6 linked regions of the Homo sapiens genome follow. Changing the gene in region 1 together with any one later gene gives a genetic interaction. Each region holds a gene or a part of one and is shown in the gene's direction. Other genes may lie near its edges. The genes, in order: SEC24B, ARL5A, MAN2A1, TRAPPC11, MAN1A1 and ARL5B.

Region 1 (4,653 bases):
GCACCTGTGGTCCCAGCTACTTGGGAGGCTAGGAGGCTGAGGCAGGAGGATAGCTTGAGCCCAGGAGTTCAAAGCTGTAGTGTACTATGACTGCACTTGTGTACAGCCATTGCACTCCAGTCTGGGCAACCTAGCAAGACCCCATCTCTTAAAAAGAAAAAAAGAAGAAGAATACAGCCTGAAGTGAATAATATGCATGATATGATCCCCATTTGTATTTTCAAAAATGTGTTTGTATACTTAGTAATAATTTAGAAAACATCTGAAAAAATTCACATCAAAATGGAAATGGTTTTTAAAATATTGACCGGAATTACAAACATAATTATTCCAAACTTGTCTATTTAAATTTTGTTATATACTACATTTTTGAATTATTTAATTTACTGTTAATTTGCTATTTAATTTACAGTTGGCTTTGAAAAAGGAAAGTAAATCTTACCTTTTTATGTATATAAAAAATAATAGACTTTTAGGTCCTTTTAAAATAGTCTCGCGTATAGTTTTAAAATATATTTACATATCCACACTGTACTTTAAAATTCTTTGCCTTTAAATTAAAGAAAACATGAAATTCTCCCAGAATGGCTGTTTTTAGAATAGGATATAATCATATATAATTGCTAAGGGAATTTGGAATTTAATGGTATCCCCCTTCATTTGAACATTTCCTCTAGAAGAAACATAAAGCCGCCACACAATACTGGTGACATGCTAATCGTTGTTTATGTTTTATTGACTTACCAAGAAAAATATAGTCAGTTAAAATGTCAGTGACATACTTGTCATTGCACATATTTTATTGACTTATCCAGAAAAATATAAACAGATTTTTCAACAGTTTAAATTTTATTTGTGTAGTTGCTGCTGTTGAGGCTAAGAAATAGAGTGCTGGCAGTTGGGGGTGATGGTAGGAATCATGATTTTGTTCTATTACTGCTGAAGTCTATGAGAAAGGAAAGTTTCCTAATTGTATTTCTTTTACCAGACACATCTTCCAGAGCTAGATACACTTTCATCAGAAAGAGCCAGATCCTTCATAACTTGGCTTAGAGACAGCAGACCATTAAGTCCAATCCTTCACATAGTAAAGTAAGTACTTTTGTAACTTAATTATGAAGTTGTCTTTCCTATGTAGTCTGTGGAATTGCTTGTCTTCAAAGCAAACTTTAAATAGTAGCAAAATATATTCTGATGGTAAAATGTTGTTACTTGATTTAAATCCCCTGTATTCCATTTTCTGACATCTCCATATATTAGTAATTTTTAATTTTCTTTCTTTCTTTATTTAATTTGAGATAGAGTCTCACTCTGTCACTCAGGCTGCAGTGCAGGGGTGCTGCTATCACAGTTCACTGCAGCCTGGACCTCCCATGCTCAAGTAATCCTCCCAACTCAGACTCCCGAGTAGCTGGGACTGCAGGCACTTCCCTCCACACCTGGCTAATTTTTAATTTTTTTTTTTTCTTTTTTTGAGACAAAGTTTCGCTCTTGTCACCCGGGCTGGAGTGCGATGGTGCGATCTCAGCCCACTGCAACCTCTGCGTCCTGGATTCAAGCGATTCGCCTGCCTCAGCCTCCCAAGTAGCTGGGATTACAGGCGCCCACCACCACGCCCAGCTAATTTTTGTATTTTTAGTAGAGACAGGGTTTCACCATGTTGGCCAGGCTGGTCTTGAACTCCTCACCTCAGGTGATCCACCCACCTCGGCCTCTCAAAGTGCTGGGATTACAGGCGTGAGCCACCACGCCCGGCCAATTTTAAAAATTTTTTTTTTTTTTTTAAGCAATGGGGATCTTTCTATCTTGCCCAGGCTGGTCTTAAACTTCTGGGCTCAAGCAGTCCTCCCACCTTAGCCTCTTAAAGTGCTGAGATTACAGGTGTGAGCTGCCAGCCCAGTAATTTTTAAAATATATACTATTTTTAGAAATATGCACTTTTATTTTATTTGTATAAATTTACAGGATACAAGTGTAATTTTATGAGCTAGATTGCAAAGTGGTGAAATCAGGGCTTTTAAATACGTTTAGACAAATGCCCTTTTCTTTCTTCCAGAGATGAGAGTCCTGCCAAAGCAGAATTTTTTCAGCATTTGATTGAAGACCGGACAGAGGCTGCATTTTCTTACTATGAATTTTTGCTTCATGTTCAGCAGCAGATTTGTAAGTGAAGTAGAATAAAATTGAATAAGAAAAAGATCTATAACCTAGGTAAAGCATAATCTGTCAGAGAAGCGCGTGAGAAATTTGAAATGAAGGCATTTGTTAATACAAGATGCAACGCACAGCACTCTGTCTGAGGCTTTGGTAAAAAGTAAAGGGGAAGAAAGAACTTGACAGATCTTTTTCAACTCAAATTAATGGTAACGATGATGCTGTTTCACCAAGTATATTTTGAATTGGTTTCTACACATTTCCAGTAGTATGGCAGTACAGTGCTCTGTTCATTGCAAGCTGGCAAATTTATGTAGCTATGTGGAATGATATGTCATAATGTAAAATTAGATAAATTCTTTTTTCTTATAATTAATATAACATTTCTGGACTTGAACTCTGGCAAGAGATGCCAAAAGGCATTGGTACCGTGTTATTTGTTTATATGAATTACTTTTTAACAAGGAATGTTTCTTATTCATTAAATGAATTCAACATTTTCTCTGTAAAAACAATAGAGTTTCAGTACATGAACTATAGAAAAAAATCTATATATAATGTACATAAATGTTACATTTGTAAAGAAAATGTAAAAATGTAACTATAGCATATGAATTGCTTAAACTGTGCTGCATTGTTGGATGACAACTCTTTTTGTCACAGTTAGAGAATGAGGTTGACTAATGCATATTATGAATTGAGTCCACAAAGGAACACAAAACTCTTTGTAATTCTGTTAAATCTTTTATGTAGATTTATTTATGATCAGCCTACTAATTAAAACTATTTCGCTTGACAGTATGGTTTGGTGATTTTTTGGGGTTTTTGTTTGATTGGTTTTTTGTGGGGATTGGTGGGTTTTTTTACATACAGGATGTATTGAATTTACTAATTGGGGAAGTGCAGTGATACTGCATTTCAGTTAGTAATATATATGAATCAGGCCAGGCGCGGTGGCTCACGCCTGTAATCCCAGCGCTTTGGGAGGCCAAGGTGGGCAGATGACTTGAGGTCAGGTGTTCATGACCTGCCTGACCAACATGATGAAACCCCATCTCTGCTAAAAATACCAAAATTAGCCAGGGGTGCTGGCGGGCACCTGTAATCCCAGCTACTCAGGAGGCTGAAGCAGTAGAATCGCTTGAACCTGGAGGCTGAGGTTGCAGTGAGCTAAGATCACGCCACTGCACTCCAGCCTGGGCAACAGAGTGAGACTCCATCTTAAAAAAAAAAAAAAAGTAATATATATGAATCAATACACTTTCATTAGTCTGTGGACATTACCAAGTACTTATTCTGTTTGTATTCTAAAACAAATGGTGCTACTTTCAAAAATATTCTTAACTAGTAAGTATAATCTTAAATTGTCTTTCTTATTTACATTAGATATTTTTGCCTGCACACTTATAGCAAGAAAATTTTAGTAACACATATCACTATCCCATTTATTTAATTGACTTTAAGATTGCCATCTTGAATTTTGAAAGTGATTTTCTTCTGATCAAGAAACCTCTCATTCACTAACAACTTATTTACTATAAAAAACTCTTAAGGATCCATTAGATTATGGGACATAATTTTATTCTGTACACTATGAAAGTCCCCATCAACAAACTTTGGAAGGAAAAAGACTCTGCCAGGCATGATGGCTCATGCCTATAATCCTAGCACTTTGAGGGACCAAAGCAAGCGGATGGCTTGAGCCCAGAGGTTCGAGACCAGCCTGGGCAACATGGGGGAAACCCTGTCTCTACAAAAATACAAAAAAATTAGCCAGGGATTGTGTGCACCTGTAGTCCCACCTACTCAGGAGGCTAAGGTGGAAGGACATCCTGAGCCGAGGAGGTCAAGGTCGCAATGAGCTCTGACCACACCACCGCACTCAGTCTGGGAGATAGAGTGAAGCCCTGTCTCAAAAAAAAAAAGAAAAAAAAAGAAAAAGGCTTGCTGTGTAGTGGGTTATTTTTACTGTTTTTGTGCTTTCATGGATCTCATTTCTTTGGATAAAAATAAAAGTACTCTCACATTCCCTGCTGGAAATGAGAGGTTAAATGACTCACCCTAAATGACATTACTTACTAATTAGTGTCAATGCTAATAGTAAAAATCCAAATGTTCTCCCTACCCACAACCTACTCCCACCCCACCCCCCACCCACAGGACCATACTTGTCCCTATACCATGCTGCCTCTAGCAAGAGAGAATCTGAACAGTAAGAGAAACTAAGCCAGGCATGGTGGTGCCTTCCTGTAGTCCCACCTATTTGGGAGGCTGAGGCAGAAGAATCACTTGAACCTGGGAGGCAGAGGTTGCAGTGAGCCGAGATTGCACCACTGCACTCCAGCCTGGGCAAGAGCCAGACTTCAACTCAAAAAAAAAGAGAGAGAAACTTTAGTACTCTAAGGGCAACTAAATACTGCAATTTTACCATAAAAAGTATAATTCTTCTTTATAAAAGACAAAAATCTTTTGTCTGGATATTTTGTCTCTCATTCAATA
Region 2 (4,862 bases), on another chromosome or scaffold:
CAAAGCATTAGAACAGTGCAGTTGTTGTGGCTTATTTGAGTAAATACAGGAATGCTGTGACATAGTCTAAAAGAAAAATCATACTAAGCAGTAAACTTCTGATGATTCTTGTGCATCAAAGAGTTGGAATGGCTGAAAGTTTTATTGCATTTGTCCACAATAACATTCTTGTAGTAGGCATATTGGGATTCTATGAAGTCTTTATTTCGAAGTGCATTATAGCACTTTTTGGCTACAAATTTACATTTTGTATAGATGCTTTTCCATCTTGCTAATGAAAGGAACAGGCTGTGGTGGTGAGAGTAAGGATGTTCAGAGGAAATTGATCTACTATTAAAAACTTTGTGACTAATCTGACCCTATTATTGAGATGACACGTTTGTCTTTGAGCCCATTGCACAGTTTGGTCTTAATTTTATAGTTCTCATTGTGACCCACATGCTATGTCTTAGATTTAGGAAGCTATTAAAAATGGTCATTGGTGGCCGGGACGCAGTGGCTCATGCCTGTAATCCCAGCACTTTGGGAGGCCAAGGCAGATGGATCACCTGAGGTCAGGAGTTCAAGACCAGCTTGGCCAACATGGCAAAACCCCTATCTCTACTAAAAATACAAAAATTAGGCCAGGCACAGTAAACTTCTGATGATTCACGTGCAGGTGGTTCACACCTGTAATCCCAGCACTTTGGCAGGCCGAGGCAGGTGGATCATGAGGTCAGGAGTTCAAGACCAGCCTGGCCAATATGGTGAAATCCTGTCTCTACTAAAAATACAAAAATTAGCTGGGCGTGGTGGTGCGCACCTGTAGTTCCAGCTACTCGGGAGGCTGAGGCAGGAGAATCCCTTGAACCTGGGAGGCAGAGGTTGCAGTGAGCCGAGATCATGCCATTGCACTCCAGCCTGGGCGACAGGGCGAGACTCCATCTCTAAATAAATAAATATAAATAAATTAAAAAATTAGCTGGGCATACGGCGAGACTCCGTCTCAAAAAAAAAAAAAAAAAAGAAAAAAAAAAAAAGAAAGCCGGGCATGGTAGTGCCTGCCTGTAGTCCCAGCTGCTTGAGAGGCTGAGGCAGGAGGAGAATCGTTTGAACCTGGGAGGTAGAGGTTTCATTGAGCCAAGCTCACACCACTGCACTCTAGCCTGGGCAACAGCGAGACTGCGTCTCAAAAAAGTCATTGGTGCTTTATTGTGAAAATACAAAAAAACTCAAATAGAGCTACGTCTTGGGAGGAAGCAACTAGAACTTTGTAATGAATGTAGTTTGTAGGTGTTTGGGTGGAGTAAGGAGGTAAAGATCCTCTGGATCATGGATTCTTCATTGGAATGGCCCTCCAGAGATCTCAGACCACATGACTACATGTGGTTTTTTTGGATATTTTCCAGGTTCTGCTTATGTTTGATTGGAGTTTCTTTCCTCCTTTTTGTTTTTGAAGTATTTTAACCATTTGGTAAGAATATGATATGTTCAAATATATTAGTTTGGTTTCCCTTGATTGACTTTAGAAATCTGCTTAGGTCTTAAGAGTTTGGGGGCATGGTTGCATATTTATGCATTTGTAAGTATATAGGAATTCATTGAATTTGTAAAATAGGTAGGCAGAAGAGTAAGATTGTAGTGTGGAGAATGGCATGAGCAAAGTTAAATGATTGGAAAGTTTATGACATGTTCTAGAGACTGAGTAGAGCAGCTTTTCTAAGTTTTAGTACGTAGGTCAAGAAGAGTTAGGGGAAGATTTGGGCTAAGGCTTAGCTAGCTTTGTCACACTCATCCTTTTTCATCATGTTTATCTAATGATCTTACCTGGATTTAGTTATTCACTTTCAGGTGCAGACAGAAGGTTATGGGTCCTCCAAAGCTTCAGACCTTGGCTAATTTCTCTCCTCTTGTTCATAGCCATTTTACCTTTCATCTTTCCTTCTACCCTAACAATAACCTAACCTTTCACCTGCTAGGACTTCCGGACATTCTTAACCTTGTAGGGCAGGACTGGATTTCTTTCCCGGCCCAAATTCCATGGCTAGCCACTTCATTTCTTTCTTATCACTGTCTCCGACACGCTTTTCTCTATTAACATTTTCCACCATGCCAGACATATGGATTCTGTTTTTTTTTTTTTTTTTTTTTTTTTGGAGACAGGATCTCACTCTGTCGCCCAGGCTGGAGTGCAGTGACACAATCTTGGCTCACTGCAACCTCTGACTCCCAGGTTCAACTGATTCTCATGCCTCAGCCTCCCAAGTAGCTGGGACCACAAGTGTGTGCCACCACACCCAGCTAATTTTTGAATTTTTAGTAGAGACGGGGTTTCGCCATGTTGGCCAAGCTGGTTTTGGACTCCTGACCTCAAGTGATCCACCCGCCTCAGCCCCCCAAAGTGCTGGGATTACAGGCGTGAGCCACTGTGCCTGGCCCAGACATGTGGATTCCTACCCTGTATCATCTACTATACCTTCTCTCTCCAGTGTGCCTTCTTTATTTCTAGGCACTGTTAAAGAAAGATTTAAAGCAGTTTAAATCCTAATCCACCACAGGATAGGTTATCTAATTTCAGCTTATTGATACTCTAGTTCATTCCATACAGTGGTTGTAAAAGATGATGCATCTTGAAACTGTTAACCTTTTCCTTTCCTCAGTAGGCAACTAAGTTGTGTTATAAGATGAAATCCTGGAATGAGTAATTTCTGCCATCTGCTTTATCTTAGACTTGTCTGTGTGTTATAGCACATGGTTTTGTTCACAGCAGTTTTACCTTGGTGATCATGTTCAGCTAGTGGCCAGGTATGATAAAGAATTTTACCTCTGCCTCCCAGGTTCAAGCAATTCGTCTACCTTAGCCTCCCAAGTAGCTGGGACTATAGGCTCACGCCACCATGCCAGGCTAATTTTTTTGTATTTTTAGTAGAGATGGGGTTTCACCATCTTGGCCAGGCTGGTCTTGAACTCCTGACTTTGTGATCCACCTGCCTCGGCCTCCCAAAGTGCTGGGATTACAGGTGTGAGCCACCATGCCTGGCCTAAGAGTCTTTTTTTTTTTTTCAGTAGTTTTTGCCTAGCTAGTTTTTCCTAACAGAACTGTTAGAAAAGCACCAGGTTTGGAATTAGGACATAGTAACCAAGTCCTAAGGACATGGCTGAAGTAAGGAGACCACTTAAAAAAATACCTGTACTAAAGCCAGATGAGGTTTTACTTTAAAGCTATCATTTTAGGAGGCTATATAGTTTTTCCACTGGTATGTCCTACTATTATTCAATCTATTCTTTGAAACTCAGAAGTTCTTTGGAAACAAATTTTTAAATAATTCTTCATATTTCACTTAACAAAAAAAAAATGGCACTCATTTTAGATACCTTTTACCTTATGACCAAGATGATACGAGGTGGCTCATCTCCCACTTTAAAGTCAAGTTCATCTTCAGAGTTTAAAAGATTTGCCACCATTAGGTGGCAATATTCAAAATGGTGTACCTCAGGCTCTGAAAGCAATTATAAAAGAACCGTAGCAAACTATTTTGAAAAAATGGTAACATGGTTGGAATAAGTGTTTAACCTCCTTAGCTGATTACGGCCCTTGTAAGAAACTGAGAGAGTACTGTTTTTTACTTCGTTGTCTCTGTGTACATTATTTATACATATACACATTTTTTAGTCATTCTTTATTGTTATATATTATAGATTCTTGCCTATGTTTTTGTTTCCTTTTGGACTTTTCCTGCTAATTTTGTACTGTTTTTAGGGTCAAAGTAGTTGTATTTTCTCTGGTATTTCATTGGTCAGAGTAATTGTATTTTCTTCCCAAGTATTGAGAAGCCCATCTAAATTCTGCCCCGTAGCTAATACATTGGGGGAATGGGGTGGAGGCGGGGGCGGGATATATTCCCGTAACTTAAAAATAAGCTGACATTTTGAGAATGCTGTGATTAAAAATCAGTATTCTCCTGGGAAGCTAAAAACTCTTATCCAAGTCAGAGATCAGAGTATAGCCTGATAATGAATTCTAGTTGTGTTAAAAATGTTTATGAGTGCGTGTATTAATAAAACTGAAGAGGAGTTACATCATCAAAAAAGGAATGCTTAATTTTGGGACATAGAAAAATGGAGTTAGGCAGAATTGCCATGCTATTTAAAAACTTTCTAGGTGCAAAGGTACCTTGTCCCAAGGACTCGATTACCTGGCCCTCATGCAGGCATGGCCTTGCTCTAAAGATGAATTCAGACCAGGTACAGTGGCTTGCACCTGTAATCCTAGCACTTTTTGAGGCTGAGGCGGGAGGATTGCTTGAGCCCAGGAGTTTGAGACCGGCCTGGGAAACACAGGGACATCCCATCTCTACAAAAGAAACAAAATATCCAGGCGTGGTGGTGCACACCTGTGGTCTCAGCTACTCAGGAGGGTGAGGTGGGTGGATCACTTGAGCCTGGGAGGTTGAGGCAACAGTGAGCCGTGATTGTGATACTGCAATCCAGCCTGGGCAGCAAGAGTGAGACCCTGTCTCAAAAAAAAAGAAAGGATTCACATCAGTCATTGCAGCCTGTAACACTCCTTGTGGTTGGGATTCCATGCTCCCCAAGTAATCATCTGATTTTAATTCAGCCATCATGTAACATATCCTCAGGGATAGACTTGTTACTTGTCATTCATTTTTCAACATTTGATCTTATTGTATGTTACTCATTTGCTGTTCTTATTTATGTCTTAGTCATTTCCATGAATTGCTCTCTCTGAGTCCTGTCTATTCTGGGATAGTAGCAGAATTGTTTGTGGATCTGGGAGACTAAAGACCACAGACGGGGTTTCGCTCTTGTTGCCCAGGCTGGAGTGTAATGGCATGATCTTGGCTCACTGCAACTCTCCGCCT
Region 3 (4,862 bases), on another chromosome or scaffold:
CAATTTAGTTAATTCAAGCTTAGTGATTGTTACTTCATGATTTTTGGAAGGATTAGAATTTAAAAGTGGAGATTGTTTACTCTCCTTTGATTATTTCTACAGTTTAGAGAAATGCATCATTTTACAAACAAAGTATTTCTAGTGTCTCCTCTTTTCTGAATCTTGATAACATTTTCAAGTTGCCTTGATTCTGTCTGCATTGTCCTTAAAACATGTTTCGTGTATAGAACCTTCTTATACTTTTTACTTCATCAAGCCATGTCTCCTTTTAAATAAGTTTTTAAGAAAAACTTATCTTGAGCCATATCCTCTGATGAAAAAACATAAAAGGTGGAAATTATAGCCCCCATGTTCTTCTTAGACTGAAGGTTTTTTCCTTTAAAATATACTACAAAGGACATTTTTTTTTTAAGAGACAGAGTCTTGCTCTGTTGCCCAGGCTGGAGTGTAGTAGTGTGATCCTAGTTCACTGCGGCCTCAAACTCTTGGGCTCAAGTGATCCTCCCACCTCAGCCTCCTGAGTAGTTAGGACTATAGGTGCATGTCACTACACCTGGCTAAGATAGAGTCTCTCTATGTTGTCCAGGCTGGTCTTGAACTCCTGGGTTCAAGTGATTTTCCTGCCTTGGTCTCCCAAGATGCTAGGATTACAGGCATAAGCCACCATGCCCAGCCGACATACTGTTTATCATCTTTCAGTTTGTATTGTTAAATTCTCTGTATTTGTTATATGTTATCATTCAAAACTGAAACTAACCCTTTCCCCTGAACTATTCTTGGGCCATTATTTTCTGCCTCTCCTCTCCTCTGAGTGTCCCGCTCACCGACCATGCCTTTCTTTCTCATTTCTCTTAATGTGTATATGTGAGAGTAAATGATATTCTGGTGATGTTCATGGTCTATGTGTGTGTTGCTCTTGGAGAGAAGAAAGGACAGAGAAATTTATCCAATTTTTCAGATTTTTTTCACTGTGCTATTCATAAATAAGCCTGTCTTGCTGCCAACAGGTTCTGGCTTCTTTTTCAGGATCATCTAGAACAAGGACTCCTGATACCAGTGTAGACATGGTATTCTTTGATGATTGAGAACGTAAATGTGTTATACGGGATACATTGGTTGTTTTATATGAACTATTATTACCAATATCTTTTTCATAAATTGCTTGTACTGCAATTATGGATTAAAAAATTTGTAAAGTATCAATGTCACAAGTTTTAGATTATAAGCTAAAGTGTTTGTTTTAAAATAAAAATATGACTTTTATGCAATTAGGGCTGCTGAAATTCTTTACTATTTCGCCCTGAGACAAGCTCACAAATACAAGATAAATAAATTTCTCTCATCATCACTTTACACGGCACTGACAGAAGCCAGAAGGAATTTGGGACTGTTTCAACATCATGATGCTATCACAGGAACTGCAAAAGACTGGGTGGTTGTGGATTATGGTACCAGGTAATCTAATTATAGAAAAATCATCTTTAAAAAAATCATTAAAATTATGGGTAATAAGATTATATCTTTTGGTGAAGTTGTTAGTGTATATCAAACCACATTAACAATGATATCCCTCATAAGTATTACTGTATCAAAACAGCACTGATATTCAAATATTAAGAAATCTGTTGACAGAGTCCCAGCTGCACCAACTTTTTATTGCAATGCATTTCTGCAAATAGGGTAGTAAAATATTATTACTACTGTTTAAAGCTGATCCTATTTTCTTCTAAATAACAGTGTGGAGACTGGAGTTATCTTCTTGACCAAGGACTTGGCATCAAATAAAACATAGTTATAATGTAGAGAGATAAAGATTCCTACTTCATTGTATGTCAGTTTAATCTCATCCTATTTCATATCCAATTGTTCTTGTATACTTCTTTTTTTTTTTTTAAGAGGCATATTGACATAATAAGCTGAGAAGCATAGCCAGGAAGGAAAAAGACCTATAAACCTTATCATATGTGGATGATATAAGCCATTGGGAATGAGAAAGGATGACCTGGGTGTTGGTATCAAAGCCATCTTTAACTCATTGAAGGGCTCTCAGATGGGCAAGGGAGTAGAAGCTAAGTTATTTCTATATTAAAGACTTTGAAACAATGAGTATAGGCATGGTCTGAGATAACAGAGGACTTGGCAAACAGAGCTTCCTAATAAGGGGGAAGAAATCTTACCTTTTGTAGTAGGGAGTTCTCTATCCTCACGCCAGCCTTTGGATGACCATTCATTCATTAGGATCAGTGCAGGGGGCATTCCTAGATTGGGGAAGGAGTTTTGACTATTTTATTTACTGTAGTTTAGACTATTCTTCCTGATACTGTTTATCAGCAGTGTTGTGCTTTGATAACATTTTAAAGTCATTTAAAATATACTGTGATTTTCTTAAAGAATAGATTTTAAAAGTGAATATCCTTAGTACTACTCCTTGATGAGAAAAGCGTATACAACACATAAAATCAATGTTAAAAAATTGACTCACGACTTATATTACTAATTGTAGTAAATGTTAATTAAATTTTTAGTTACAATATTTTGACTGGCTTTCTAGAAATTGGGGGAAAAAGATATTCTTGGGTTTTCATTAGTTGATTTCAGTCCTTAAAAAATGCATTCAAAGTAGTATCTTGAATATCTTCTCCATTTTTTAATGGCAAATATATATGACACCCACCTGTCGAGGTTGATCTGGGGTTAAAGTAGAAAACCCTCATTAGATGATAAAGATGGTATTTCTCCCACAGAAACCATTTTTGAAAGTAAGGTCAGATCCTCCTTTTTTCCTTCTTACCTGCTCCTGGCCTGCTTGGTTTGTTGAGAGTTTAAAAGTGAGACTGCTTAGAATCAGACCAGGGTAGAGCTCCTAAGAGGACATAGAAAAGTCATTTTCCTACACCGCCCACTTGCTATCTCTGGCTGTCATATCGAAAGAGATTTGCTTATAGGTCATTGAGCTTTGGCTACAGAAGATTTTTTGTATCTTGACCTGTCTGGAAGAGCTATCATTGGTTCCTCCATATGTTTTGTGTTGCTTTTAGCTTATAAAAACTTCCCCGTGTAGAATTGCGTGTTAGAGAAAAAAAGGTAGTAAGTCTCAAACTGTACTTGGCATTTGTAAATTTGCTATGTTAGTACTTCACAGTTCATTGAAAAGTCATAAACAATTACCAAGTCATTAGCACAGACATTTTAAGGAGGAAATTTCAAAACATAAGTTAGAGAATTATTAACAAAGAGGTAGTTAGTATTGGGTGTTCTCTTGAACTTGGACTGATGACTACTATTCATTCAAATTTGGCAGAAATATCACTGTGAACAAGTTTATGAATTAGGGGTGCATTTGGCTGCGAGTAATAGCAACCAGAAACAGAATAAATCCTGTCCTGCTTATTTTTATGTCATATGAAAAAAATCTGTAGACAACTGGTTCTGGTATGGCAGCTCTGCAGTGTCATCAGGCATTCAGGCCCTTCTTTCTCCTCTGCCATAGTAGGGGGAATCTGAGAGCATGCTGTCAACAATAGATCGAATGTGTATATAGTTACAAACTGGAAAGCAAGAATACATCATGGCATATTTGGAGATTAATTCTAATCATGGCATGAAAAAAATGAATTAGATTGGGACAATGTTTGTAATAGTCAGCTTAAAAGTATTAATAGATAATGTGGCTTATGTAGAAGGGAAGAAGAAATGGTAATGAGGTCATTTAGAGAAATGTTTTAGAATTCCGCTAATTATTCCTAACTTGTAATTAAGGTAGGTGGGAGAAAACGGAACACAGGGTGAGCGTGAGGGTCCTAAAATGTAGACAAACTATATAGTGGCAGACATGCTAACATCTCCTTAATACAACAACCATAACAGCAAACTAAGAAACTGTGATTCCCAAGTGATTTTTCCCGAACCGTATTCCGTATTAATAGGATAAGTGTATGTTTGGAAATTAGAGGCCCTGAAAAAAATCCTGTATTAATGAAATGTTGAAACGTTTAGAATTTTGTTTTACCCAATGTTTCCCAAATGTACTGTGTTTCATTTTGTTTTGTTTTAAGCAAAGCAGCTCTATACATCCTGAGAAAACATTTGGGGAGTGATATACTGTAGTCTTTAGTACTCATCTTATGAGAAGGCTGCATGTGTGCCTTTAGGATGCAGACATTGATCCTGGCTTTCACTCAGTTTAATTAGGACTCTTTAATACATCTGGTTTTAGGTGGTGGAGAACATGACTTTCACTCTGCAGATTCAGGCTGCCTAATAAAGATAGCCCTGTAGACAATAGAAAGGAACTTAGATTGAGGGTCTTGCTGTCATAACTGAACCATATTCGTATGGTGTTTTAGTATGGTGAAAACACTTAATGCTGTCTAGGAAAACATTTGAATATGTTGGGAAGTTTAGTTAGATTATGGCATGAACTCAAATCCATAAGATTTTAGCATTAAAATTATAGATTTGCCATGTAAATGTATTTAATTAATAACATTGATCATGATCACTTACATCTCTGAAGGAAATATTAATGCTCTGCAAAAAAGAAGTTAACTTCTTTTATAGGTTTTCTTGTTGTTGTTGCATGACAACAAAAATGTCTTCAAGGCATAGATCCAAAGTTGCTTTCTGTATTGGAAAAAATAATATAATTGAAAACGTGATTAGCGAGGAGTTTCTACGTACTTCTCCAATATGAATTTGCCTATGGATGCCTGGTCTGTAGAGCCTTCAAGAAACGTAACTGAATTAGGAAAAAAAAAAAAAAATCTTCAAGCAAGTTCTTTTTCCATGAGTAATGCTTCAGCAGTAGCGGATGTATTTCAGAATTGGTCTGGAATCAGTAGACTTTTGATTCCTTAGACATA
Region 4 (4,862 bases), about 74 Mb from region 1:
CCTCCCGAGTGGCTGGGACTACAGGCGCCCGCCACCACGTCCAGCTAATTTTCTGTATTTTTAGTAGAGACGGGGTTTCACCGTGTTAGCCAGGATGGTCTCGATCTCCTGACCTCGTGATCTGCCCACCTTGGCCTCCCAAAGTGCTGGGATTACAGGCGTGAGCCACCGTGCCAGGCCTACATGATTATTTTTCTTTAGTGTCATGTTTGTGTCAAGAAGGCAGGGAGCCCAGCACAAGCCCTCTTTTCTCTTAATGCTCGAATTCAAGCTGCTTTTCATTTCTCTATTCCCAGCTTTTGGCTGAGTCCCCATGTTATTTTGTGTCAGACTTCCTTATTGACCTCATCTTTCCTTGCTGGAGGTAGACATTGGATCACCATGAAGTGGAGTAGTCTGAGCCAGCACAGCTGATTTGGAAGGAATGTGAGGTTTCAACTGCATCCCTCAGGGCTAACACTCAAATCTACAGCATCCTCTTCCCACTCTGTGGCACTCAGTGCCCAGACTCAAGTGGCTGCTGTGAAGCTTCTGTTTAAGAATTGTTCTCTGCTTTGTACTTCATCTACAAGTGAGGTGAAATGCATCACAGCAATATGTCTTTGAAATAAACAAAGCCTATTGGATTTTAGATAATATTTTATTTGAGCAGTTTTACAAGAACAGAAGCTGGAATGGTGAAGAATATAAGTAGAATTTACCTGGAAATGGGCTACTTTTTTTTTTTTTTTTTTCTTTAGCAAAGTATTTGAGACCCTTGACATCATTAGACATGCATCATCGTTTTATGCATTCAGTTATGGGGCTGATAGAAACTCTTTGGCTTCAGTCATTCTTTAAATGGGAAGTATAGCTTCTCCAGGGTTGAGATTCCACCTTCAACACTTACTAGTTCTTACTGAATCTGTAAGCCTGAGTTTCCTAATCAAAAATGGGAGGTGTGTATATTGAATGAGATCAATGCACATAAAGTGCTTGGCACTCAGTAACAGGTGGTTTCTGCTCCTGTCAGGTAACTTTTCAATTTCTGCCAATGTTTGCAGAGAACTTCATATGAGTGGTACATTCCTAAAGGGATCTTAAAGACTGGCTGGATGAATAAGCATCTGAATCTGGTGCCAGCCCTGGTGGTTGTGTTCTATGAACTGGACTGGGATGAGCCTCAGTGGAAAGAAAAGCAGTCTGAGTGCGCCACCAGAGTGGAAATAGTCAGGTATGATCTTCTGTGTCAGGGCAGCTATGTCAGTTTGCACATGTGTGTTATTCACTAACATTCCTTGAAGGCAATGGAGTACCGTTCAGACTGCAGTGGTCACTTTGCGGATTGACCTCCAGTGAATCTTGTTCACTTCCTCACAGGTAGCATAATTATTGACTGTATATAATGCTGGGTACGTGAAGAAATTTAGAAGACTAATTGGTCTGAATTTCCAAATGTTTTTCTTGTATTATCTTTTTTGGAGACATAGTAATTTACTGTTTAGTCTCTTAAAACGCTTTGCTTTATCACTGTTTAAGTTTCAAATAATTAATTCTTTTGGATGACTACTCTGCAGTGTATCACCATAAAGAAGTAAGTTGCATTATAACTTTTACGTAAAAGTATACATTAATCTTTTGCTTTTAAGGAAGATTTTTAAGATTAGAAGATGTGAGATCATACTTTTAGAATTTAAATCATTGTGACATATATGTGCTTTGTGTGCAGGAAAAGATTTCTTCTGATCTTGGTTTTTTTAGTTGAAATTTATCTTCGGTTGAATGACCAAGGTTGTATTTTATGTGAAGTCATGAATACATTTTTTAAGTTAAAATAATTAATTTTATTCTTGCTTTTTCATTGCAGGCAAAGTTTACAAGGAAGAAACACAAAAGTTGCAGTGGTTCTGATTCAGAAGAAAACCCCTTTGCCCCCAGGTATCAGAAGTCTAATTAATGAATTAATTGTTTTATACCTCCAATTCTTATTAAAGGGAGATAGGGGTTTTTTGGATGTTTAAATCTTTTATGCATTCAGTTATGGGGCTGATAGTATGTTAACTTTAAAAAGCACCAATGATACATGAACAAATGCTTATTGTAAAAAATTAAAGATAGTGAAGAATGCAAATCTCAAGTTCCCCTAGTTCCCCTGTTCCACTTGTCTTCTTATGTAGGGGATATAGGAAGGCATGTTCAATTCACAAAACAATTCGCTTGAATTTTTTTACAAGAGTATAATTTTTTTTGACTTCCAAAGCTTTCCAAAAAAGAATATAATTTACTTATCTAAGATCTATTTGAAGCTGTATTCCTTATATGAAATTTTTTCATTAATTTTCTGTAGGGCAAAGAAAAAGGCTATAGGATTTGTAGTTTTCTCTTGGAAAATGTCTTAGTTTCAGATTCTTATTTCCACTTTCCCAGACTTTTGTAGACCAAAATATATTTTTGTTTCTGTGTTGAAACTTATAGCATCCAAAATGGTTTTGGAGACTTCTTTCATGAATTATTGCTTCCAGTTTTAGTTATGTTTTTTGAAATAGTTATGTGGTATATCTGTTGGCATTACTTGGCCACCTATCCTGGCTCAGTAGAAAATTCCACAGTGTTTTCCTAAAAGGCATATACTGTGTAACCTCTAAGAACCACACAGAGCTCTCAAGGAGCCCAGGAGTCCTGTTGGTGTGATGAAAAGCTGTTTGGGTTTTTATTCCTAATTCTATTTTTTCAGACTTGGGGAAATATTTATTTGGGAAGCTACATTAGTTATTTTATTTCTCATTCATCTTGATGGGGATTATCAACAGGAGAAGATGTCATTGCTTCAGAAAGGGCTGCAGCTTTATGCAATGCATGTGAACTCTCAGGAAAGTCTTTGTTTGTACTGCCGCACACTGACCACCTTGTGGGTTATATTATAAGGTAAGTAGAGGTCTTTTAAAGTTTTGTTTTTTTAGATTATTAAGAATTGAGAAATTGGTAGCTTAGACCCATTTATTTTTTTAAAAAATCATGTTCATGAAAAACATTCATATGATACAGAGGCTATGGGGTAAAAATAAAAGTCTTTTTTGTTAAATTCTTAACCCTCTCCAATTCCCTGAGGTAACCAGTATCAACAGTTGCTCAAGTTTCCTTCCAAAAAAAGTCTTTTTGTATAAGAACAAATATATGTATTTCTTTATAGTATCCATACCACACACACAAACACAAAAACATAAATGTGCTCATATGATACACAGTGATCTTCCACTTAACATTACCTCATTAACATGCTTCCATATGTGCATCTAGGTCAACTTTATTTAAAGAAACAAAGTTTATATGTTTCTCCATTATACTTTCCAGTAATTACCCATGTCCTTGAGTGACATGTATGTCCTTTTTTGTGAGAGTGTCTCCATTCCACTCTGGCCTGTTTTTGCTTCATTCTTGAGCTGTCGATGTATCTATGTCACTAATTTCTTAGGAAGGTGTGAGCCCTATCATATCTTAAATATTTTTATAAAGCCTTTGTGTATAAAGGGCAGATTACCTGGAGACACAACATTACCTCAAAAATCATGTGGTCATTATTCATTGTTTTGTAGCATTTATTGTCACACAGAAGTTTTGTAGTAGTACATTTTATGCTAGGATGTATTTAGATATGAATATTTTCATTGATTTTGACTGTAAAATGGTTTTCCTTTTCATTCTGCATAAGTGTCCTTCGTTAACTCATGAACAGTTTTATTTATTTTTGAGTATTGCTTCTCTTGCATTTGTTTCTTTCTCAGAAGCAAACCTCTGAAAATGATCCGCTGCAGGAGGTTACCTGGCCTTCTCACTGGTATATAAAAGACCAGGCTTCTAAGAAAGAGAAGCATACATTTAGCAGAGAACATGCAGAGGAATAGGATCAAATGAAAAGATGAATTGCAAAGAAACTTAAATGCAATTAGCAAAATAAATCTTTACACTGGAAGCAGTAAACAGTAGAATTCACACCACAGAAAATCAAGTCCATGGTGCCCAGGGTAACATTGAGATAATTGCTTAGAATTCAGAGGAAAAGAATAAATGAGTTTTATTCCTTAAATGCAGACATATGAGCAATAGGGAACAGAGAGAAGAGAGGGGCAGCTGGTAGCACACTCAGGCAGCTTTTCTTTCCACTGAGGCTCATCCCAGCATCACACCTGGCCTCAGCTCTCCAGGCCTGGACAGCTCACCATTGACTCTGCACTTCAGTGCTTTCCTATTCACAGTGCTGTTCCTTGTCAGATGCTTTCATAGTCATGCCCACCTGCCAGCTCTCCTTTTCTGGGCTCTCTCTTACTCAACATTTAAGGCTTCAACGAAGCCTTCATTAGAAAGCTGTTGTCCTCTGTGCTATACCCTGCTGTAATGACTCTTCACTGAGCAGCATTACCTTCCAGAGACTATTTGGCAATGCCTGGAGACTTTTATGATTGCCATAACTGAGGGGGTTGCTGTATTGGCTTCCAGTGGGTAGAGGCCAGGGATGTTGCCACACACTCTACAGCGTACAGGACAGCCCTGCACAACAAGGAATTACCTGGCCGAAATGTCAGCAGTGCTGAGCTTGAGAACCCTACCTTAACCATCAGTGATCCTGCCCACCACAGCTTTCAAATTTAGGCGGTCATGGATTCAAGAGAAACAGAGGATGGGCCTCTGCCCTTAACCACTTGTAGTTTTGTTGTGGATGATGAAACATTTCAATAAGGAGTACATTGTCAAAATAACTGATGTAAAAACAAGTGCCCTGGGTCCATAGCCTCCAGCATGTGGATACAAGATGGGGAGTGCATAAGATAGTCCATTGGAGATGAGGAAACTCATAGACCCTTTCTTCAGATTTATATTTTATCTTC
Region 5 (4,862 bases), on another chromosome or scaffold:
CTTTCTTTATAATCTTGTGTATGTTGGTCAAAGAAGGGTTTGATTAGTCAAAATAGGAACAGCCACTGTGGGCTCCAGAGATACTGTGAAACGAGTGGCAAAACAACCTCCCCGCCAAGTAGACGAAAATAATAAACAAGATACCTGTTTGGTAGTTTAGGGAAGAGATTCCCTCTTTGAGGAAATAAGTCTTGACTTTTCCCTCAGTATTCTTAGCCTAGTTCCTTGCTTGGTGTTCAGTGATTGAACTATATCTTATCCCCACCCCCAACCTCTCAATCTGTTAAAAGGCCCTTTACACAAACTCTGCAAATTATGCCATGATAACTTTAAATCTCAGATTTTAAAACTAAGTGTATGCTCCGAGTCGTAAGGTATTGCATCTGAATGAGATCTGAGAGGTAGCTCATTCATTTTACAGTAGAGGCAACCAAGACACAAAGATCATTCTGGAAATCACATCACCAGCTAGTGGCAGAGTTGAGTTGCAGAGGGAAGCCCCAGTCTTCTGTGAGTGTTGCGCATTGTCTCCCACATGGTTTGTCTCCTAAATAAAACCCCAAAGAATTGTATAAATTATCCGTGCTTACTATTTGCAGACCCTAATAGAGAGTACAGAAAACATACAATTCTGCATTATTATAAATTTGACCTTATACTAAGTTGGTGGTTTTTCTTTTTTTTTTTTTCAGCCAACGATGGATCAAAGTAGTTTTTAAGTCAATTATAGTAATTTTTAAAAATCTTACCAGTGGCATGGTTTAGAAATCTTCTTCTTTGTAAAGACACCCGGGGAAAGCTTGATAGGACATCTTGTTTTCTTTATAAAGATCTCTCCAAGAAGCACAGGCATTTGTAATCATTCAGTTAAACATTCTTTATGAGGAAAAGTGGGGAAGAAGAAGGAAGGGAGAGAAGAAGAGAGTGAGTTACTGTATATACAAAGGGTGAAAGGGGATCACCCAGAGAAGGGACATGTGATGACTAGAAGGGCTGCTTTAAAATTATAAATGTGTGTGCTCTTCTGATATTGCACCATGGATAATAGAAGAATGACAGCTAACCTAAAGGATGATTGTTTTAAAAGTAGACATGTAAAAATCACACCAATCTATGGGCAATTCTCTCCACCCAAGTAGGTTCTGGCGATTCTCTTTTGGGATGCACTTACCTGTCTCTGATCCATCCATTTGAAGCAATGTAGTGGTTAGAAGGGTGGATCTGGACTCAGATAACGTGGGTCTGAATCTGGCCTCTACCATTCTCTTGCTTTGTGACCGTCTGCAAATTACTTAATCTCTCAGAACTTTAGTTTCCTCATTTGTAAAATGAGGTTAATAGTACCCACTTTGTTGGATCCTGAGGCTTAAATGTGATAGTAAAGCACTTAGAATGGTATCAGACATGAAGTGGGCACACAACAAATGCTGCTTGTGATTATTGCTGTTACTGGTCACCACCTAAAGCCATCAAGCCAAGATTGCATTGATCCATATGCTGTTTAATAACTCAGGAAAGTGGATAATGAAGTTTCAAAAGGGTATCAAAAATAGTTAAAATTGAGTTTTAGTGCTTAAAGGGATACATTTCCAGTTCATCAAAAAGATCTTCCATACCTATAATTTTATTTTGCTACGGTCAACTCTGATTTTCTTTGATTTTTACCAAATTCCAAAAAAACTTAAGTATCTTTAGAATGATATACTTACTGCATATACATCTTCAGCTTCTTCAGAATATATGTTAAAGAATTAATTTGTCTCTTTCTCATAGTCAAATATGCCTATTCCCGCAGATACCATCTTTCAGAGTAGTCACAGTCGAGTTATCTTAATTTCTCTTTTTTCTAATAAATAATTTTTTTATTTACACAATGCAGATCGGGTCTCACTATATTTCCCGGGCTGGTTTCAAAGTCCTGAGCTGAAGCAGTCCTCCCACCTCGGCACCCCAAAGTGTTGGGATTACAGGTGTGAGCCACCATGCCTTGGCTGAGTTATCTATCTTAAGTATTGAAGTTATTCTTCTAAATAGAGAGAGAGATCGAGTAAAGTGAATTTCAATCTGTTTCATCTTGGAGGAATGTTTTTAAGAAGTGAGAATTATTATTTTAGGCTTGGCAAAAATTATATAATTATGATAAATTCTATAATCAGAGCTCAGTCCATCACTTAGTAGTCAAAGTTAGCATAAATCAGTTTTATTTTGTAGCTCAGAGAGTTTGGTCTTTTTGAGACCTTCACATTGAATTTAGATTTATTAGGATTCCAGACCCACTACTCATTTTACACATGAGAAATAAGGCCTGTGAGCTGTGACTTCCTGAGATTCCCCCAGTGTACAAACAATAGCTGAGAATTGCTTCTTAGGTGTTGAGAAGTACTGAGAACCAGGCCCCACTCCACCTGGGATAATCTTGACTCTAATGAGAACGTGTGCTTTGGTGACTGGCTGACCAGGCCCTCCCTCCTCCTCAGCCCTAAATGGCAGGCCAACTGCCAGAAGCCCCACTGAGACCATCCTAGAGGGAGGTGGGACGTCTTTGCTGGGTAGGGGATTGCCTAAGAAAGCAATACTGGCTAATTCCTTTGCTCCGGAGAATGTGGCAGCAGTGCCCCGCCCCCACTGAGTTTTGATAAAGACTTCTGTGATCATTAGGTACTTGAAAAAAAACCAAATGAGATTAAGGCTTAAGAGCATTTAAAAGTCACAGCCCTCATTTCTGTCATGAATACTCTGGTAGTTGCTTTAGGTACTTTAGAGCTGAGCAGTCCTGCAGATAATCCAGAACAGAGATAATAAAATTGAAAAGTACACGTATCCTTCCTGTTTACTTGACTTTTGTGACTAGAATGACTCCTTCTCGCTCGTGTTTCTCAGTCTGCTCATCTCCCTGGCTCTTAAGTTTATCAAAAGCCCAGTTCCTGATTTGCTCTGCTGCTTTCTCATCACTCTTGCTCTACATCGTTCATTCAAGTGACACTCAGAACATATTATATTAACTTTTCATTTGCATTGTTCATGTTTTTATGTGGGTCACTAATTAGATCGTCCTGTCTTGTGTGGGAGTGTTTAGTATTAGCAACTTAGTATGAGAGAGGGCATGGAGATGAGGGGATAAAAACCTGATGAAGGACACCAAGTTCTGAAAGGGTGGTTTAATAACACAGCATTGCTACCCTCTGAAACAACCTTTGTTGCTGGTGCCTGTTTGTCTGTGCTAGGAGTTTATGAGAAAGGGGGTGGCAGTAATTGGTGTCCGAAGGCCTGTGAATGACTATGGCCAAGACGTGAACTCAAGCCATCCATAGACTACAAGCTATTGCTAGTGTCTCCATTTCTGCCAAATCCTTCCTCATTAAATGGTCTTCTCAAGGTCCCTTCAGAACACTCAATTCTTCTAAGTGACAGGATGATCTCAGAAATAGGACAGGAGGCCAGGGATCCTAGCCTACACTGGGGGTGGCATGTCCAGCTTCCTGAGCTGATGTTTAGGTCATGATTGTCTGTCCCTAGTTCCTCTTTCACGGGAATACATGCTGGAGCTATGTACTAAAAGGGGAGTGTGTTTCCTCACTGTATCTCTCTCTGTCGGGGCATAAGACAAGAGAACAGACCTGTGGAATGATTAGGGAAGCTCAGGGGTATCTACCCAGTCTCAAAATCTCATTCCCAGCTGCCAGAAATTCACCACCAGTGTTTCCTTTTTACTGTTTTTGTTTTGTTTTTGTTTTTGAGATGGAGTCTTGCTCTGTTGCCAAGGCTGGAGTGCAGTGGTGCAATCTTGTCTTGCTGCAACCTCCGCCTCCTAGGTTCAGGCGATTCTCCTGCCTCAGCCTCCTGAGTAGCTGGGATTACAGACACCTGCCACCATGCTTGGCTAATTTTTGTATTTTTGGTAGAGGCAAGGTTTCCCCACATTGGCCAGGCTAGTCTCAAATTCCTGATCTCAAGTGATCCACCCACCTTGGCCTCCCAAAGTGCTGGGATTATAGGCATGAGCCACCATGCGTGTCCATTTATTGATTCTTAAAGGCTTGCTTTAGAAATAGATGGATAAAGTTGCTCAGCAGAATTATTAATATTATACTTTGAGATTTGTCTTATCAAAGGATAGAATAGGTTTGTTGAAGCAAGTATCTTCCATTGTCTTATTTCGCTTTATAAACTCATGTCTGCTTGGGAAAGAAAAATTTGAAAGCACACTAGAGTAGAAAAAAAAAAACAAATCCTTCATAGTTTTATCAGTCACTAAGTAGTGTCAATGATGCTCCTCCCTAACCCCAATATGTAAGTTCGTTCCCACCCCCCGACGCCGGGTTATAACCACACTATATATACTTTTTGTTTTTCATTTTCTTTGCAAGTGTCATTTTATGTTGGCACAGTATATCCATGTCAAAACATGATACTTTATTTAACCAGTCCCTTGGACCTGAACATTTAGATTATTTCCACTTTTTTGTTTTTATTAAAAATGCTGAGACAGACAGCTTTGTCCAGTAAATTTGTGTCTCACTTTTTATTGCACACACCCTGGTAAGTGGGATTTTCTCTTAAATTCTTAAGAGGGGAAATAAATTGGCCAACAGATAGTACATTTTGAGGGATAACTTTCCAGAAACCATTTATACTCCCATGTGTCATATAATGAATGGAGTCTGTTGATTCTTTGTGAATTTCATAAGTGATGAAGCAGTATATGGCATTTTCAGTTTGCTTTTCTTTGATCAACACTTTCTCCTGTGTTGATCATTTGCATTTCTTCCTTGTGAGTTGTATAGATAGAACAAGGAAATTTTGAAAGGAGGAAGATAGAGAAGATGGCAGAGCTTGGAGGCCTAAGGAGTGAAATCCACCAG
Region 6 (4,862 bases), on another chromosome or scaffold:
TTTCTACTTAGAATTTTTCTCTTCCTCTAACTTTCCTGTTGGAAAATTTAGAACCAGTGATTATTCTGTTATTTTATTCTTATTCATTCATACAGCCATAGGCCAGTCTTCAGAGTTTAGCATAGGAGATACAAAATTAAAGAATAAAGATACCTTACTTCTTGGCAAAGTATTCAAACATCAATAAACGAGACAAACATGAAAAAAAATGCAGTGTGGTAAATTATTTAACAGATATGTGTAAAAATATAACGTTGGCTGCAGCACAAGGTATACTTGGACGTAATGTAATGATGAGTAGGAATTTGGGTGGCATGCTAGACAGACCGAATAGAAGGGACGTGTTATTCTAGGCAGAAGAGCTAATATGCAAAAGGGAGAGGAATGAGCTAGTTTGGTACTTTTAGGGAAGCTGAAAATAGTTGAGCTTGGCTGTGTGTTAGTTTGCTTGCGAGGAGTGAAGAGGAGATGAGATTGGAAAGACAACCAGGAGAACCTTATCACAGAGGGCCTCCAGTGTTGACTAAGACATTAAACTCTCTAGAGCAAGGAATGGGACTCACTGAAGGGTTTAATCCACAGATGTATCTTAGCCTATATTTTTGTTTTCTGCATCAACAAAATTAACTACCAATCTCAGCATTTTCCATTTTTGTAACTATATTTATCTATTCCAGTGGAATTAGATATATTAGAATAACAGGCCCAAAGCGCCACCTCACACCAACTAAATTAGATTGGGGTGAAGAGGCCTGGGCATCACTGCCAAGGTAAATCGAATGTGCAGCCAGTGTTAAGAACTACTGATCTTACTTTATGTGCTCCTTTCCCGTGTCTTTCTTCCAGTATTTCCACATTCTCATCCTTTTTTTTCCTGTAGCATTTTAGAGTCTCATGCGTCTTATAAATTAGATACCTTTCTGTGAATAAGTATACTAAAGCGTGTGTTGTCTAAGTAAAGCAATGTAAAAGTTAATTCCTGCAATTTTGTATTGTTTGAACTGGAAGCCTGTTTACTTCGACAGTTATTATTCAAGGAAATAATTTGGAATTCTGATTATCTCTGCAAACATTTTATATGTTAATGTAGTTCTGTGAAATACATATGTGTTATGTGTGTTTGATAGCTCACCTCTAAAGTTTTGCATTGTTTTTTAAATTTCTTTTGAACTTTTGTAGGCATAGTCTTTTTCTCTCAGTGTTATGATTGTGGAAACCTGTCATCAGTTATTTCTTTTTTTGTTGTTTGTTTGTTTTTTTTTTTTAATGAGATGGAGTCTCACTCTGTCACCCAGGCTGGAGTGCAGTGGTGCGATCTCGGTCCACTGCAACCTCCATCTCCTGGGTTCAAGCAATTCTCCTGCCTCAGCCTCCTGAGTAGTTGGGATTACAGGCGCACACCACCACTCCGGCTAATTTTTGTATTTTTAGTAGAGGTGGGGTTTCACCATGTTGGTCAGGCTGGTTTTGAACTCCTGACCTCAGGTAATCCGCCCGCCTTGGCCTCCCAAAGTGCTAGGATTACAGACGTGAACCACTATGCCTGGCCCAGTGATGTCTTTAAATTTTATTTATTATTGTTATATTTTCTGTCACCCAGGCTGGAGTGTAGTCCTGTGATCTCAGCTCACTGCCACCTTTGCCTCCCAAGTTCAAGCAATTCTCCTGCCCCACCCTCTGGAGTAGATGGGATTACAAGCACCTGCCACCATGCCTGGCTAATTTTCGTATTTGTAGTAGAGATGGATTTTACCATGTTGGCTAGGCTGGCCTCGAACTCCTGACCTCAGGTGATCTACTCGCCTCCCAAAGTGCTGGGATTACAGGCGTGAGCCACTGCACCTGGCCAGTTATTTCTAGTGTTACCCAGAATTAAGAACAAATGAAATACAGTTTTAATTGTAGTTCTTTTTCAGAACCATGTAACAGTAACATCTTAATTTCATAATTTAATCATTTCTTTCCAATCCATGAATTTCATGTTATCATTTTGAACACTGGTTGCCAATTGCGTATGATTATTGTCCTTTACTTCTGACTGCTCAGATCTCAGATCTTGTGGCTCACATTTCTCTCTTTAGCTTATTCTGCTCTTTTTTTTTTTTTTTTTTTTGAGATGGAGTCTCTCTCTGTCGCCCAGGCTGGAGTGCAGTGGCGTTATCTCGGCTCACTGCAAGCTCTGCCTCCCGGGTTCATGCCATTCTCCTGCCTCAGCCTCCCAAGTAGCTGGGACTACAGGTGTCTGCCACCACGCCCGGCTGATTTTCTGTATTTTTAGTAGAGACGGGGTTTCACCATGTTAGCTAGGATGGTCTCGATCTCCTGACCTTGTGATCCTCCCACCTCGGCCTCCCAAAGTGCTGGGATTACAGGTGTGAGCTACTGCGCCCGGCCCCAGCTTATTCTGCTCTTAACTCTGGACTGTAAGCAGGTTTCAAACACACTAAACTTAAACTTATCATCTATCTGCATCCTGTCTTCCAGACCATTCTTTGTTTTTGTTTTGTTTTGTTTTGTTTGAGACGGAGTGTTGCTCTGTCACCAGGCTGGAGTGCAGTGGTGCAATCTCAGCTCACTGCCACCTCTGCCTCCCAGGTTCAAGTGATTCTCCTGCCTCAGCCTCCCAAGTAACTAGGACTATAGGCACCTGCCACCATGCCCGGCTAAGTTTTGTATTTTTAGTAGAGACGGAGTTTCACCAAATTAGCCAGGTTGGTCTTGAACTCCTGACCTTGTGGTCTGCCCACCTCAGCCTACTGAAGTGCTGGGATTACAGGTGTGAGCCACCATGCCTGACCTGGCTAACTTTTTTCTTAAGAGATGGGATATTACTGTATTGCCCAGTTTGGTCTCAAACTCCTAGATTTAACTGATCACTTCTCCTTGGCCTCCCAAAGTGTTGGAATTACAGGTGTGAGTCATTGCACCTGGCCTAAAACATTCTGATTTACTGTAACTGATAGTAACAGTAGTGTCTTTTTTTTTTTTTTTTTTTTTTTTTTGAGATGGAGTCTCGCTCTGTTGCCCAGGCTGGAGCACAGTGACCCGATCTCGGCTCACCGCAAGCTCCGTCTTCCGGGTTCATGCCATTCTTCTGCTTCAACCTCCCAAGTAGCTGGGACTACAGGCACCCGCCACCATGCCCGGCTAATTTTTTTGTATTTTTTGTAGAGACAGGGTTTCACCGTGTTAGCCAGGATGGTCTTGATCTCCTGACCTCGTGATCCTCCCACCTCGGCCTCCCAAAGTGCTAAGATTACAGGCGTAAGGCACCACGCCTGGCCTAACAGTAGTGTCTTAACCTAACATTTCCTCATGTTAGGGACCTACCTTTCAAAATGGTGCATTATTGGTGAGTTTTACCATCACAGGCCTTCAGTATTATGTGAAGCATCATAGTGCAAAAGTGAAGCAAGGAGCAGGATTGTTTGCAAATGACCTGGGTCTTCATTTGAGTTGCTTCAAGAAGGAGCCATCTGGTACTGTCCTTCCATTCCTTTCTCCCAACAGGATTATCTGCCTTCAAGTTTTGCTTATCTTTAAACTAGTGGCTTCCTTCTCACCACTGCAGGCATGTTGTTTTCTGTAGATGCTTGGTAGGTGGAGCTTCTAGCTGTCACCAAAATTTAGAATGCTTAGTGCCAGGCAGTCTGTTTGTTCCTCACTGATAAAGGTTCTTGTACTTTAAGGGATAACAAACAGGGTAATACTTAAAGATTAGCTTCATTAGAGGACATGTAGCCAAGCTTGGTGGTGTGCACCTGTGGTCCCAGCTATTCAGGAGGTTCAGGTAGGAGGATCACTTGAGCCTGGGAGGTCGAGGCTGCAGTGATCATGCCCCTGCACTCCAGCCTGGGCAACAAAGCAAGACCCTGTCTCAAATAAATAAGGAGAATTATAGTGAGTTATACTAAGCAGGCAAGTTTTGTTTTGTTTTACAAAGCAGCTTCTACCATAGTGAAAATAGCCCTTCCAGAGGACCGTGTCTGTTTATCCTGCACTGTAATAGGCTGTATCTAGAGTGTGTAGGTCATTGGAAGACCTGCACATCTCAAGAACTTAAATTTTCTTGGTCCCTCTTTTTTTGGCTGATGAAGTTTAGAACTTCAGAGTAGGAATATGAGCTGATAGTTGATTATATGACCAGAATGTTGACATTCACCAGAGGTCATCAAGAAGAGCGGGATTCTGATATGAGATGTGCCCAATCGTTGCCTACAAATCAACTGTGTTGTGATTCTGTGGAAACTTCCCTACTTACCCTGTTGATGTTAACTTGTAACTTTTTAAGCATTCTTCTGCCTTGGAGAAGGGGATCTTTAGTATACTTGGCATAAGTGAAAATCTAGGAAAGATGGTATCTGGGTTGTTTTCTGTATTCAAAGGACATTGCAGAATATATACCACTTAACGGAATAATTAGATGAGCTTTAGCAACTACTTATTAAAAGAGGTGAATATTTAGTGCATGGCACCCAAAGGAGGAAAGAACTGAAGAGATTTTCATTGTACAAAGAGCAGAAACAGAATCTGCTCAAAAGAACTGTAGAAGCCGGTTGAAAAAATGTTAAACAATGAGTAATTGTGTAAAAACTTGAGAGTATATGTTTGTCTTTGTGACACATGAAACGTTTCAATTTTAAGCTTACATGGGATTTTTAAGTGAGAGGAAGAAACAGATCCTGGTATACATAGGTGGGGAAACTTACAGATATGAAAACATTTTGATAAAAAGCTAACTTGATTGGTACAGAGCTAAAAAGGTGTGTAAAACAGGCTTTTTAAAAAACTTACATTTAGGTTATAATTTTTGCCTAGATTAATATTTGGGTCTCCTCTCCCCTAGATGCAATATAAGTGAC

What was found.
Region 2: changes in SEC24B (region 1) and ARL5A together harm fitness more than expected from each alone (negative genetic interaction), as found in Homo sapiens cells (one large-scale study listed by BioGRID).
Region 3: changes in SEC24B (region 1) and MAN2A1 together harm fitness more than expected from each alone (negative genetic interaction), as found in Homo sapiens cells (one large-scale study listed by BioGRID).
Region 4: changes in SEC24B (region 1) and TRAPPC11 together harm fitness less than expected from each alone (positive genetic interaction), as found in Homo sapiens cells (one large-scale study listed by BioGRID).
Region 5: changes in SEC24B (region 1) and MAN1A1 together harm fitness more than expected from each alone (negative genetic interaction), as found in Homo sapiens cells (one large-scale study listed by BioGRID).
Region 6: changes in SEC24B (region 1) and ARL5B together harm fitness more than expected from each alone (negative genetic interaction), as found in Homo sapiens cells (one large-scale study listed by BioGRID).

What each region holds. Positions count from the first base shown.
Region 1 is NC_000004.12:109,537,505-109,542,157, forward strand, and holds the end of SEC24B (protein transport protein Sec24B), read left to right. Parts: intron 1-988; coding exon 989-1,092; intron 1,093-2,056; coding exon 2,057-2,171; 3' UTR 2,172-3,392; downstream 3,393-4,653. UniProt on the Homo sapiens protein: Component of the coat protein complex II (COPII) which promotes the formation of transport vesicles from the endoplasmic reticulum (ER).
Region 2 is NC_000002.12:151,817,933-151,822,794, reverse strand, and holds part of ARL5A (ADP-ribosylation factor-like protein 5A), read left to right. Parts: intron 1-4,862. UniProt on the Homo sapiens protein: Lacks ADP-ribosylation enhancing activity.
Region 3 is NC_000005.10:109,783,472-109,788,333, forward strand, and holds part of MAN2A1 (alpha-mannosidase 2), read left to right. Parts: intron 1-1,272; coding exon 1,273-1,455; intron 1,456-4,862. UniProt on the Homo sapiens protein: Catalyzes the first committed step in the biosynthesis of complex N-glycans. It controls conversion of high mannose to complex N-glycans; the final hydrolytic step in the N-glycan maturation pathway.
Region 4 is NC_000004.12:183,665,214-183,670,075, forward strand, and holds part of TRAPPC11 (trafficking protein particle complex subunit 11), read left to right. Parts: intron 1-1,043; coding exon 1,044-1,213; intron 1,214-1,846; coding exon 1,847-1,917; intron 1,918-2,789; coding exon 2,790-2,904; intron 2,905-4,862. UniProt on the Homo sapiens protein: Involved in endoplasmic reticulum to Golgi apparatus trafficking at a very early stage.
Region 5 is NC_000006.12:119,338,964-119,343,825, reverse strand, and holds part of MAN1A1 (mannosyl-oligosaccharide 1,2-alpha-mannosidase IA), read left to right. Parts: intron 1-4,862. UniProt on the Homo sapiens protein: Involved in the maturation of Asn-linked oligosaccharides. Progressively trim alpha-1,2-linked mannose residues from Man(9)GlcNAc(2) to produce Man(5)GlcNAc(2).
Region 6 is NC_000010.11:18,661,454-18,666,315, forward strand, and holds part of ARL5B (ADP-ribosylation factor-like protein 5B), read left to right. Parts: intron 1-4,862.